4 linked regions of the Homo sapiens genome follow. The protein of the gene in region 3 interacts with the protein of the main gene of each other region in a biochemical or structural test. Each region holds a gene or a part of one and is shown on either strand. Other genes may lie near its edges.

Region 1 (3,500 bases), on a different chromosome or scaffold from region 3:
TGGCTCCTGCAGGTCCTTCAGCCAGACGTGTTGTCCCCTATGAGCAGCCAGGGTGGGGCCACCTGCCCTACACCCACCGGGGCCCTGAGCTCCTTAGGGATTTGCAGAACAGAGGGGAGAAGTGGAGATTCCAGGTGCATATTAGAGATAGAGCTGATGAAGCCTGGTGACCCAGTGGACTTGGTGGGGGGATGGTGAGGGAGAGAGAGGCGTCATGGCCACTGTGACTCTGGTGAGTTCAGGGGCTGCTCCCCACGCTGGGGAAGACTTGGGGAGGAGAGGTCTAAGGAGATGTGTGTGGGGATGAGACACCTATAATGGAACCGTCACGTGGGCAGTTGGAGGTGTAAGGCTGGAGGTCAGTGGGGGAGGCAGGACCAAGTGGAGATTTGGGGTCTGCAGTATTTGGAGGGAGCTGGGGCTGCAGGCAGGGGTGAGGCTGCCTGAGGGAGAGAGTGTGGACTGTGCCCGCCACATAGCAGGTACCACAAGTGATGGTGGCCAGATCATTGTGGGTGACCCTGGGAAGGGCAGTTTGGGCGGAGAAGAGGGAGAAAGCTGACTGGAATGTGTTGTAAGTGACTGGGAGGGAGAAAGCGGGGTCCCATTCTCAGATGTCAATACCCCAGGTTGTTCGTCAAGCCCTAAGCACAGTTTGTGAGGCCACGATGTGTGGGATTCCCTATGAGCTCCACGTGGGCAGAGACCACATATCTGCTCATAGCTGGTGTCAGCCAGCGCCTGGCACATGGTAGGTGCTCAGTAGTTATTTGTTGAATGAATGAAGTAATGAATGAATGAATGGGCACTTCTTCAGCCCTGTGGGAGCACGTCTACCAAGGAAAGGGGGGTGCAGCTCTGTGGCCCTGCATCAGCATGAGAACCAGGAGGGGTGCCTTGGAATTTTTATCACTGACCTTTACCTTCCACTCTCTACCCTCTTGGTGTTGGGAGTCAAGCTGCCATCCCAGAAGGCTCTTGTCGGACACGATTGCCTCCTTGTGGAGCCACTGTATGAGATGTAATTTTCTCCTGCTCTGAGGAGTGGCTGCAAATTGTTACTCCACTCCAAGCTGTTGGGTGGGAGAGATTTGTGGACTCAGCCTTCTTCTTAGTGTGGGTGCGGGCACCTGCTCACCACTGGGCCTCTGCTGTGCTCCTTTCTACAGTGGTCCCAATGACCAAACAACTACTAAGTGCAGGGCCTGTGTATGAATGATCCAGGCTCAGCCCTGCCCTCAAATGGCCTCCGTCCATCCATCTATCCATTCATCCATCCAGTTCATCCAATTAATCCACCTATCCATCCATTCAACCATCCATCCAACCATCCATCCATCCATTCCATCCATCCATCCATCCATTCATCCATCCATCCACCCATCCATCCATCCATCCATTCAACCATCCATTCAACCATCCATTCAGCCATCCATCCATCCATCCATCCATCCATCCATCCATCCATCCATTCCATCCATCCATCCATCCATGCATCCATCCATTCAACTATCCATTCGACCATCCATCCATCCATCCATTCCATCTATTCCAACTATCCATCAATCCATCCATCCATCCCATCCATCCATCAATTCCATTCATCCATCCATTCCATCCATCCATCCATTCAACCATCAAACCATCCATCCATCCATCCATCTATCCATTCCATCTATTCCAACCATCCATCCATTCCATCCATCCATCCATCCATCCATCCATTCCATCTATTCCAACCATCCATCCATTCCATCCATCCATCCATCCATCCATCCATCCATCCATCCATCCATCTTTTCCAACCATCTATCCATTCATCTATTCCAACCATCCATCCATCCATTCCATCCATTCAACTATCCATCCATCCATCCATCCATCCATTCAACCGTCCATCCATCCATCTATTCCAATCATCTATCCATCCATCCATTCATCCATTCCAACCATCCATCCATCCATCTATTCCAACCATCCATCCATCCGTCTATTCCAACCATCCATCCATCCATCCATCTATTCCAACCATCCATCCATCCATCTATTACAACCATCCATCCTTTCATTCCACCCATTCAACCATCCATCCATCTATCCATCCATTCAACCATCCATCCATCCATCCCTCCTTCCATTCCATCCATCCATCCATTCCAACCATCCATCCATCCATCCATTCCAACCATCCATCCATCCATTCATTCCAACCATCCATCCATCCATTCCATCCATCCATCCATCTATTCCAAACATCCATCCATTCCATCCATCCATCATCCATCCATCCATCTATTCCAAACATCCATCCATCCATCCGTCCGTCCATCCATCCATCCATCCATCCATCCATCCATCCATCCATCCATTCAACCATCCATTCAACCATCCATCCATCCATCCATCCATCCATCCATCCATCCATCCAACCATCCATTCAACCATCCATCCATCCATCCATCCATTCCATCCATCCATCCATCCATCCATCCATCCATCCATCCATCTATTCCAAACATCCATCCATCCGTCCATCCATCCATCCATCCATCCATCCAACCATCCATTCAACCATCCATTCAACCATCCATCCATCCATCCATCCATCCATCCATCCATCCATCCTTTCCATCTATCCATCTATCCATCCATCCATCCATCCATCCATCCACCCATCCATCCATCCATCTATTCCAACCATCCATCCATCCATCCATCCATCCATCCATCCACCCATCCATCCATCCATCTATTCCAACCATCCATCCATCCATCCATCCAACCATCCATTCAACAATCCATCCATCCATTCCATCCATCCATCCATTCCATCCATCCATCCATTCCAACCATCCATCCATCCATTCCATCTGTCCATCCATCCGTCCGTCCATCCACCCATCCATCCATCCATTCATCCATCCATCCATTTATTCCAACTATCCATTCATCCATCCATCCATCCATCCATCCAACCGTCCGTCCGTCTGTCCGTCCATCCATCCATCCATCCATCCATCCATCCATCCATCCATCCGTCCATCCATCTATTCCAACCATCCATCCATCTATCCATCCATTCAACCATCCATTCAATTCATCTATACAATCCAATCCATCTATCCACCAACTCACCCATCCACTCATCCAATCCACACATCTGTCAACCCATTTATTTATCTGTCTCTATCTATCTACCTACCTACCTACCTACCTACCTACCTACCTACCTATCTATCTATTTCTACTTACCTAACAATTCATCCATTCAACAAATATTTATTTAGCACCTACTATGTGCCAGGTGCTCGGCAAGGGCCACGCCTGATTTGTTTCAGGGCAGTGCTGACATTTCCTAACCTCCCACACATGCCGGCCCTCTGTGGGGACTGTGGACTCCCCTCTGATGAGTGGATCCTGGTCCCTGTCTTCCAGCAGACAGACACAAGCATTGATTCTGTCAGCCCATGAAGCAGACTGCGGCTGTGCGCTGTGTGTGC
Region 2 (3,500 bases), on a different chromosome or scaffold from region 3:
CTCATTTAAACTGTGTTTTATTTTGGTATCCAATCATCAGGGTGATTGGGAAATGTCTAGAAAACTCTCAGGCCAAAATACAATGGCCTGGTCACAAAGAGTATAAACATTTTGGCATCTGCAGACATCCTGATCCTCAATTTCAGTTCTCTGCCACAAGGTGGGATCATGCATTCAGCATACCAAACAAATACAAATTTATTCTAAGTTTTAAACTTCTACAGAGGAAATTTTCATATATTATCACTTCTCTTATTCCTATACATTGCTAAATAATCTAATGGTGAAAATATGTATCTAATTCCTGCTGATTTATTTAGAGTATTTCTTATTTAAGTTCATAAAATAATACTTGATGCATAAAATAATACATGTAGAATAAGTATGTGGTGATTATAATAAGAAAACAAATTCACATAACTCTTATTTTTATATGGAAGAACAATCAAAAGAGCCATACATGCCTGAAGAAGAAAAATAAGATGAGGTAGGGGGTGTCTAATAATTAAACCTTGTGTTACTACCACAGGCACAAATAATAATATGATCCAAGGAGGAGAACAGAAAGCTCAGGAAGAGATCTACATGTGGCAGAAACTTGACCTGTGACAGTGGTGGCATTCAGATCACTGGAGAAAGGATGCTGGGACAACTGATTAGGCGTACTCTTACTGTGTTCACTTTGGAAGAGCTGGAAAGCAGCTAGGGGGCAGACATCAGTACAATATACTCCTTTTCTGAAAACTATCCCCCATATCAGCTTTTGTTTTCTAACTTTATAACTGCAAGCATACATTTGGTTTGCTTCTTTTCTTTTTTTTCTTCCCAGGGCATTTCCAACTTTTTGCCTATTTTTCACATTTTCTTAGGAAACATTTTCTGTGAAATTCCAACACAAGACACATGACTTCTAAGTAGTGCTAAGAAAACTAAGAGGATTAGTTTATACAACTAGACATTTCCAAAATAAGAAAGTTAGCAAGATATTGACCAAACTACTCAAGAAAGGCAGTGTAAAAATGTGTAGGCACTTTCTGTTTCCCCTGGAGCAACTTCTAGAGTACCTTGAACATTCTAGGTGTTTAATGAATGCCTGGTACACTGTTACTCTATAATAAAAGTAGATTTTAGTCTGAATTCTCTAGTAGAATGAAGGGCCTTTCAGGCAACATATTTAATCTCTTTATCTAAAAAGAAATTCTGACTCCAAGCTATCATTTGGAACTTACTGTTACAAAGTGTTCCCAGGGTATCATAATCTTCCAAGGAGTCACAGACCACTCGCCATTGAGAAAAGACAGAGTTTGGGCTTATTAGAGTGGAATCAAAGTTGCTTCTGGATCCCATCAAGTCATCCGTGCAGATATCACAGACATTTTTCCCCGTTGCAAAATTCCAGTAAGGAAGGGAGAAAGAAGGCTCTTGCAACATTTCCTAGATCACAGAAACCACATTAATACTCTCTGCTTCTGTTTACAATTATTCATTTCTGTTTGGTCTACTCTCTGACAGTCTATTTCTATTAGCTCTCTTCAGACAATAAGGTACTGGTTAGTATATCAACGGTGTCTGAGGGGCCCAGAGGAGTTAAAACCTTATTTAACAAAGCTGGTAATTTATTACAAGGTGTCATTTAGGCATTAGAGGGAATGAAACTCAACTCATTATGCAGACATTTCTGAAAATGATTTAAAGGGATAAAGGGTCTTCTTTTTCTTTTTTAGGCAGATAATTACATTTATATTGGTTATACAAAAAAGTTATCAATAACAACATCCACTTCTTGGCATTTCCACCTTCTTCCATTTTCCTATCTTTAATTCAAGCATCATTAACTCTTAGTCTGGAGCCAGATCCAGCCTTAAAATATGTTTTGTGGAGTGCTAATTTTTGTTTTGCTTCTGTTTTTAAATTTAATTTGAATGACTAGGCATTTAGATTCTGGTTTGGCAACAGGCCAATGGACTCTTTCACACTGAGCACGGAAGGTGTTTTATTTAGGGAACCCTGCCTTAGAATCTAAACTTTTAAGACTCAGGCTTCTGCCTAAATTTATACTGATAAAAATGCTAAACAGAAGCAGAGTAAATCTTTCTGCCCATTGTTTTTTAGATCAGAGACCTAGTTTCCATTCAAAGCTGATCTCACATTTTTAAAAATGCTGGCCTCAAGATCACATGCTTATTTCATTCGGTTCTTTAAAACATACATTTCCTTGTTATTTCTCATTTCTTTGGTGCCTTGAGAAGTTCTATTTATGGTATGGGATTTAAATGTAGGGATTGCAATTGTTTTATCTTATCTCTCAAGCACTCAGTATATTTCTACTTTTTCACTTTAAATCCCTTCCTAGGAAGCATTTTCTTATCCTTGGGTGTTTTAGAGAGCCAAAAGCTTTCCAAGTTATCCCCAGTTATTGGTCTCCAGGGGTTTGTAGTCCTCCTTTAGAAGCCATCATTGTGGTTCACAAAAATTAGTGACAGCTTCCAAGGGATCATTAAGAATCGGTTTGTGGTTCAGCAACTGACATTTGGGAGCCAGAGCATATTCATGTGGCATTTCAACCACGAATTACATTTAAATTCTAATTTGTTGCATCCCTTGTGCTGTTGGGTCTTTAAAATGTAAGTCATAGAGGTTGAAGTTTACACAGGCAAAATTGAAGCTTTTAGATACTTTCCACCTGCCCTTTCATTTTGGTGTGCCCATGAGAAAATGACTTGAAGGCATGAAGATCTGCAGTCAATTACAAATGACAGATTTATCTATAATCTACTAAATGTCTTACTTGCAATCAGAGCTATAAAATATGACGTTCAGAGTATCAGATGAATTCATTTAATCACTCTCAAACTGCAAATGGATAGTGTACTTTCAAAAGAATATTTTATCCTGTATGTTAGTGCATTAATTCTCTCTCTTCTAACCATTTATTTTTTCTCGGAATAATGCTGGCACAGCATTCTGCAAATTAATAAATGAATCTAAACGCCTTTCCCTTCTTCAGATATTTTTAGCTTAATTTTTATATCTTAACTTGAAGGGGGAGATTCATTGCTGTTATTTCACATAGAAAACAGGTTTACTTTGTGGATTTCCTAGTTGAGATCTAACAACTTAAACTTTTATTTTAAAATTTCCATATTTTTCTCAAGGAACAGAGCAGTTGGTAAAAGAAATAAGAGTAAAGAATCTACGTAACTAGATACTTTAATATGTTTGAAGCTTATCTGCTTAGAAAATAAGCATGAAATAACTGCTTGAGTTGAGGTTCACTTTGTGCCAAATAAAAAGCCAATGTCTTTTCACTAAAAATATTGCCTGACTGATATAATTATTTTGATATTTTTCAACTTTTTTTCAAATTTTACATATTTTAGGTGTACAACATGGTGCTTTGATATAAATATACATAGTAAAGTGATTACTATAGCCAAGCAAATTAAAATATCTGTCCTCTTATATAGTGATGTGATATTTTAATAGGTTTCTTCTGTAAG
Region 3 (3,500 bases):
ATGTCTCAAACACTGTAAAAAAAAAAAAAAAAAAAAAAAAAGGCAAACCAGAAAAACAGTTTCAGTATGTGACTGTCATATACTTAGTGCAAAAGGGTTTTTTTTCTGGTTTATTTGCCCTTTTTTGTTTTTTTGAGACAGAGTTTCACTCTTGTTGGCCAGGCTGGTGTGCAGTGGCCTGATCTGGGCTCACCACCACCTCCGCCTCCTGGGTTCAAGAGATTCTCCTGCCTCAGCCTCTCGAGTAGCTGGGATTAAAGGTGTGCAACACCACGCCCGGCTAATTTTATATTTTTAGTAGAGATGGCGTTTCACTATGTTGGCCAGGCTGGTCTTGAACTCCTGACCTCAAGCGATCCACCTCCCTCAGCCTCTCAAGCTGCTGGGAGTACAGGCATGAGCCACCACACCCAGCCTGCCCTTCATTCTTCTAACAAGTCAATAAAGATCTAAGCAGAATGAGCAGTTGACATGCATGGACAAAAAATAAAAAATATAAATGGACAATAGACCTCAGAAAAGATATTCAAACTCCCTAGTAATCAAAGAAGTATAGACCGACATAAAAATAAATATACAGATATATTTTTTTTTGAGACGGAGTCTTGCTCTGTTGCCCAGGCTAGAGTGCAATGGCGCGATCTTGGCTCACTGCAAGCTCCGCCTCCCGGGTTCATGCCATTCTCCTGCCTCAGCCTCCCGAGTAGCTGGGACTACAGGTGCCTGCCACCACGCCCAGCTAATTTTTTTCTATTTTTAGTAAAGACAGGGTTTCACCATGTTAGCCAGGATGGTCTTGATCTCCTGACCTTGTGATCCGCCCACCTCGGCCTCCCAAAGTGCTGGGATTACAGGCGTAAGCCACCGTGCCTGGTCAATATTTCATTTTTAACTTAAAAATGATAAATATATATTTTAAAATTTGGTGTACAGACAAGGATGTAGGAAAATTGGACTCAGACTGCTAATAACTTAACAAAAACTGGTGAAATTTTTCTGGAGGGCACTATCGTTATGCATTGAATAAGCCCTTATTATAAGTGAATAATTTTATATTAAGAAAAATCTATTCAGGATACAATCAAATAGGCACACATACTTATAAGATAGATACAGAAAACAAAAAACAAATCAATTCTTGGCTTTTGAGTTTCAAAACAGTCTTTTGAACATCATGGCGTAGACAATACTTGGAGAAACTATGCTTCCTCTAAGTAAACACAATGCTGCTTTTTTCCCAATCTTCTGAAGATTCTCCAGGTTAGGATGATGGAGAAGCAAAAAGAAGAAAGTTGTAATTAGACTTTATAGGACCCTACATAAGGAAACCCTGGCTCCTGCCCCTCTGAGCGGATCACCAGGGCAGATGACAGAACCCTTAATTTACAGGATTGAACTGCCAAGGCCTTTTTGCCTTGCTTCTTGGGTAAAGTACAGAGAAAAAAAATCACTGTGCAGTGTGATAGATGGAGACTGAGATAAGGTTAAAGAGTGTCAGACGACCTAGGAGTCACACTGAAGAGGCAGAGAAGGCCACCCTCAATTGTTTGACATTACATTTTCACAATCCAAGCAGAAGGGAAACTCAAAAAGATACTAAATTGAGTTACAGAAAAATAAAGGAAGTGAAATCTTAAGCACCCTTGAATTATACCTTCAGATTCATAATTTCTACTGCAGATTTGGAGACTTAAGGGATCATTTGATCATTGGCTTAGCCACTCAACTAATATGTTTATTAAGCATTTATTTTATGAATTATAGTCTACTACGTTTCTTGAGAAAACATGAAAGGAAGGTAAACTTTGACAGCATCGTGCAATATAAACCCTATTTTCAGTATGTTTGTAATTTCTTTATAACTGGTCCCATGATGATTTGTTAATGCATATAATTTTCCTTTGAAAGGAAAACTTGGTGATTTGGTTGTCTACATACCCTTCTCTAATTTCTTTTTTAATATTAAAACTTACATGTTTATGTTTTAATAATGGTTCACCCAGTTTCTAGGCCAGATCATCAGTCTGTAGACTTCTTCGTGGCTTTTGTTCTATTTGCTTTTATTTAATAGGGTTGGAGATTCTAGGCCAGACCTTTAGAGGCCCATTATCTCTGTTTTGGCACTGTGTCTGCGATTCAGTTGCCACAGGAGGGCTGTGGTACTAATGTGTGTGGGCCATTAGGCTCTCACGGTGGTGGTGAAGAGTTGAGAGAAAAACGGCTGGCTGGTGCACCACACACCAGGCCCTGCAAAACCATCAAGGTTATCCTCTTCCAGTCCCTGCTCTGCCCTCTCCCACACAGTTAACAATGTATCAAAAGCAGACTCCACAGTTTTCAATTCCAGAAATTTTGCCTTCATGCTTTATCTTCAGTTTAGACAAGGACTCAGATTCTCTTTAAGGCTCAACAGAGTCAACAGGTCTGTTGGTTTGGCTCTACTGTCTTTCCCACCAGGACACAGAGCCACTATGAGAGATCTGGGCAGTGTCACAGTTCCTCATTTGTACTACTGAAATGCTTTACTAACATCCTACAAATTATATAATTAAGCAGCTAAGAAGTGAATTTTAGAAAGATATTAAGAAATATAAGCATACTTGAAAAATTTTTATTTCAAACACTCCTCAACTTTGCTTTTTAATTGTTTTCAGAAGCATATCTTGTCTTAAGGATTATTTTTGTGGCCTTTTTTTCCCCACTAGCTTTGCCTACTTTGTAAATACTTTTGAGTACATATGCTTGTCTCCTTAACCTATTATTTATCTCTGGAGTGCTTTTAGTCCATCAGTATAACTTTGTAATAAGAATAAGGCAGTTTTCTCTTCTTCTTTCTTTCCCTTTTAAGGTAAGAACAAGAAATCAAACCATCTTGCCACAGAAGTCTTGTTGCATGAATAAAAAGAAGCCAAAAGATCTACTCAGTTAGGGTATAAATGTTGATGTGCAAGCCCTTCACAGGTATTCCTTGAGCCCTGAAAGTTCAGCATCTATTCTTGCTTTTGACTTAGTCTGTGTCTCACTCTTAATGAAAGTATGCATCATTTCTAGCTAAATATTTAAGACATATTTTGAAATGTGATAGGTTATTTATAAACAGTTAAGCTATTTTTATCAAAGCTGTATATACAAGCACTCCTGATTCAGAGTTGTCTTTTATAAGAACCAGTGTAAGTTTGAGCAATCACTGAAAACTTGTAGCACCAGCTTCCTACATAGGCTGAGAAGGTGGTTCTTATATGACTTTAAGAGCTCTAAAAAGACTTCTTATTTTACAGTGAAACCCCCTCCTCCATTTAAAAGCTGAAATTCTATATTTTTAAGTTTTATCCCCTTGCTTTAAGAGTTTTGTTGTACCTATTGCATTAGCATAAATTAATTTAACAAGGCCTTGCAATGGACGTCTGGTAAAATTGGATTTTATTAAGAAGGTGAGGAGTGATGAGAACAGCCTGAGGGTATATAGTAGGTACCCAGGAAATATTTTGACCAAAGAGAAG
Region 4 (2,810 bases), on a different chromosome or scaffold from region 3:
TGGGGAGAGATAGTTTCCTAAAATCACAGTAACTTTTAATAATTGTAATGCATTTTGAAAACAGAGAATCATATTTTTATAATGGTGAGAACTATGCAATAACTCTTTAGGAATGAAAACTTCCTTTAAGAAGTTTGCCACCGTTAGAGATGAGGAGATAGTGAGACAGAGAGATGTTCACAGAGACTCAGCAAATCTTAGACAATAATGCTGCAATTTTCTGAAAGAAGATGCTTGCAGTGTCAGGTATGGTTTGGGGGTTGGAAAAGTTACTTTTCTGATTTCTTGGAACCATTTAAAACTCCTTTATATCATTCTGTCTCTTTCCAAATTGAGGGTCAACTACTAGTTTAGAGATATAAGGTATTTTATCTTGTTTTCAAGTTCTACTTCAGAAGAAAACCTATTTCATGTTTCTTCTCCCATTACCTACTTAAGATACTTAAGGTATTTAAGTATGCATTTGAGGAAATATTTTCCTGTGCTAAAATAAAGGTTTGCAAATGTTGGTGTGAGAGGTTTTAACTTTGACCAGTGAGAATAAAATGTATGATTGTGTGTGTGAATTTCTCCTAACATATTAACCAACTCCTTTCTATATGCAACAAGGTAACCTGGTGCCCCAAATCAATACTTGTAAGTACTATTCAGAGTTAAACTTCCAAAGTCAAAAAATATATATACACAAAAAAAGGGGAAAAGCCACATTTTTTTGAACAGAGGTAGAAGAGAAAGAGAAAAAAAGTGTCTCAGCCCTTTAGAGGAAAAGAGAGCAACTCATTCTGATGAGTTACACAGTTTTAGCAAATTGTTCTTATCAATATAATAGACATGAGGATTGTTCCTGGTAGCCTTCAAGAGCTCCTAGACAGATATAAATTTAAGTAGACATTACTTTATTTTGCTGTTAATCCAAGTAGACATTGCGACTTGATTCTGAATAGGCATTTTATTTTCAAAATTTTTCTACTGAATTTCTCTTGCTCTGTATGCCTACTTATTGTGCACATGGGTTGTTTTTCCAAACTGCTTCTTGATTCTTAAGTGAGAATTCAGACATGATACTCAAACGAGAGCATATTAGACATCTGTTTTAAGATTTATTTTCTGTTGCAGTCATCTTGGCAAACAAAATCCAGATACAGTTAAGTTCAGGCTCTCTTCCAAACCCTGCTAAGCAGCTGCTTTGAAAATGTTTTCAATACTATGGATCTTAATATCCACTGAGATGACAAATGTAGGAAAGGAAGATTCATTCTGTTAAATGTTTTTTCTCTTTTGCAATGTCCAAGCTCTACTTATTTATTAATAGCCTCCCTCTGTACCCATAACATCATTTATTTGGTGAATTCACTGTTATTAATACTAGTATTTTATCACAGTAAAGAAAAGGTTTCTGAAAACCCACAACCTCACTATCCTAAAGCAACTACTGTGTTTCTATTTTGGTATATCATCTTCCAGGCTTCCTCCACATGCAAATGCAGCATACATATTATAATAGTGTGTTTTTCTTTTCTCTTTGAATTATATTCCATGCATGTTTCCATGTTTCTATGTAGTATTTCTAATTATCAATGAACGATTGTGTAATATGCCATTTTAGTGATGTTCCATAATTTATCATGCCATTCCTTATTGCTGGCAAGATACTAAGTTTTATGGATGATTTTGTATGTTTTTTTCCTATTGCTGGTTACACTGCTATATTATTTGTTATATGCCAATAGAGAGGAACTTTACTATTGAACAGGTATCTCCTTGTGGATGAGAGAGAGGAGGCAGAAATGTGTAAATGAATGGAACTCTCCATATTGTTGTGTGGGTCTTCCCTTCACTCTTGTGGATATAAGACCCAGGGTGGGAAACAAAACGATGCTTCTTCCAAAAGATCCTCCCATCAGGACCAGAACTAGTATGTTTAGGAGTAAGATGGAACATTTCCCCAGCTAAGATACCAGTGGTGTGTTTCTCACAATTAGATTACAGTGGTGTCAGTCTTCAAGAGCATCGTGTTCAACAAGCAAAATGATAAATAGATGTAAACAATAATAATGACTTTGTAATATGCCAAAAGCATTTTCTTAAAGTACCTCATCATATATTTTATAATAGATGTATTTCATATGTATATGTATTGTCGCCTATCAGTGACTTACAAATGAACTGGAATTTCAGGAATCTGATAGACTCTGCCCTTGAGTTTTCTGTGTTTCAGTTTCCTACTGGGAAAAACTAAACTGAGGATGGAAATGGGGACAAATGCTTGGTTTGCCCAAATATCTTAATAAAAGACTAGATTCCATTCAACCTCTTGTCCAGTTCACATAAAATCATGTAGACACCACTGAGTCTGAGACCATGACTTTGATTTCTCATGACCTACCGCAGGGTCCTCACTCTATGGGCACCCAACCAAAAGAAATGTGTACATGATGCTGCCCAGATACACAAACAGGCAGGCACTGATGTTAGATAGCCAGTCTTTGGCAAGTTGTTCCTGGGACTGACCCTTACTAGGGATTCTTTTTTTATTTTTCCCTTTATTCCTTCCCTGACCCCAGATTACAGCCTGCAGACTTGGTATTCTCGGTGATAGTACAAAGCTTTGCATGCTTTATCCCTAATAAGGTACAGAGTTACAAAATGAACCGATTACAAAACAGTACATAAAGCTATTAAAAATCTCCTGTGCTGCTCTTTGACAAATCTATCTTTAGAAAGTTGAACATAAAAGATAATTTTGCAATTAGTCACTTTCTTATTTTTCATGGTAATGAACTATTGTACATAAGACAACTCTTCAGTAG

Evidence for each region.
Region 1: the proteins of LIN7A (region 3) and SLC22A12 interact in a test that uses a peptide from one of them, tested with the Homo sapiens proteins (one large-scale study listed by IntAct).
Region 2: the proteins of LIN7A (region 3) and TYRP1 interact in a test that uses a peptide from one of them, tested with the Homo sapiens proteins (one large-scale study listed by IntAct).
Region 4: the proteins of LIN7A (region 3) and TMEM215 interact in a test that uses a peptide from one of them, tested with the Homo sapiens proteins (one large-scale study listed by IntAct).

The regions. Positions count from the first base shown.
Region 1 is NC_000011.10:64,594,220-64,597,719, reverse strand, and holds part of SLC22A12 (solute carrier family 22 member 12), read right to left. Parts: intron 1-3,500. UniProt on the Homo sapiens protein: Electroneutral antiporter that translocates urate across the apical membrane of proximal tubular cells in exchange for monovalent organic or inorganic anions. Involved in renal reabsorption of urate and helps maintaining blood levels of uric acid.
Region 2 is NC_000009.12:12,696,385-12,699,884, reverse strand, and holds part of TYRP1 (5,6-dihydroxyindole-2-carboxylic acid oxidase precursor), read right to left. Parts: intron 1,435-3,500; coding exon 1,230-1,434; intron 1-1,229. UniProt on the Homo sapiens protein: Plays a role in melanin biosynthesis. Catalyzes the oxidation of 5,6-dihydroxyindole-2-carboxylic acid (DHICA) into indole-5,6-quinone-2-carboxylic acid in the presence of bound Cu(2+) ions, but not in the presence of Zn(2+).
Region 3 is NC_000012.12:80,812,435-80,815,934, forward strand, and holds part of LIN7A (protein lin-7 homolog A), read right to left. Parts: intron 1-3,500. UniProt on the Homo sapiens protein: Plays a role in establishing and maintaining the asymmetric distribution of channels and receptors at the plasma membrane of polarized cells.
Region 4 is NC_000009.12:32,786,892-32,789,701, forward strand, and holds the end of TMEM215 (transmembrane protein 215), read left to right. Parts: 3' UTR 1-2,310; downstream 2,311-2,810.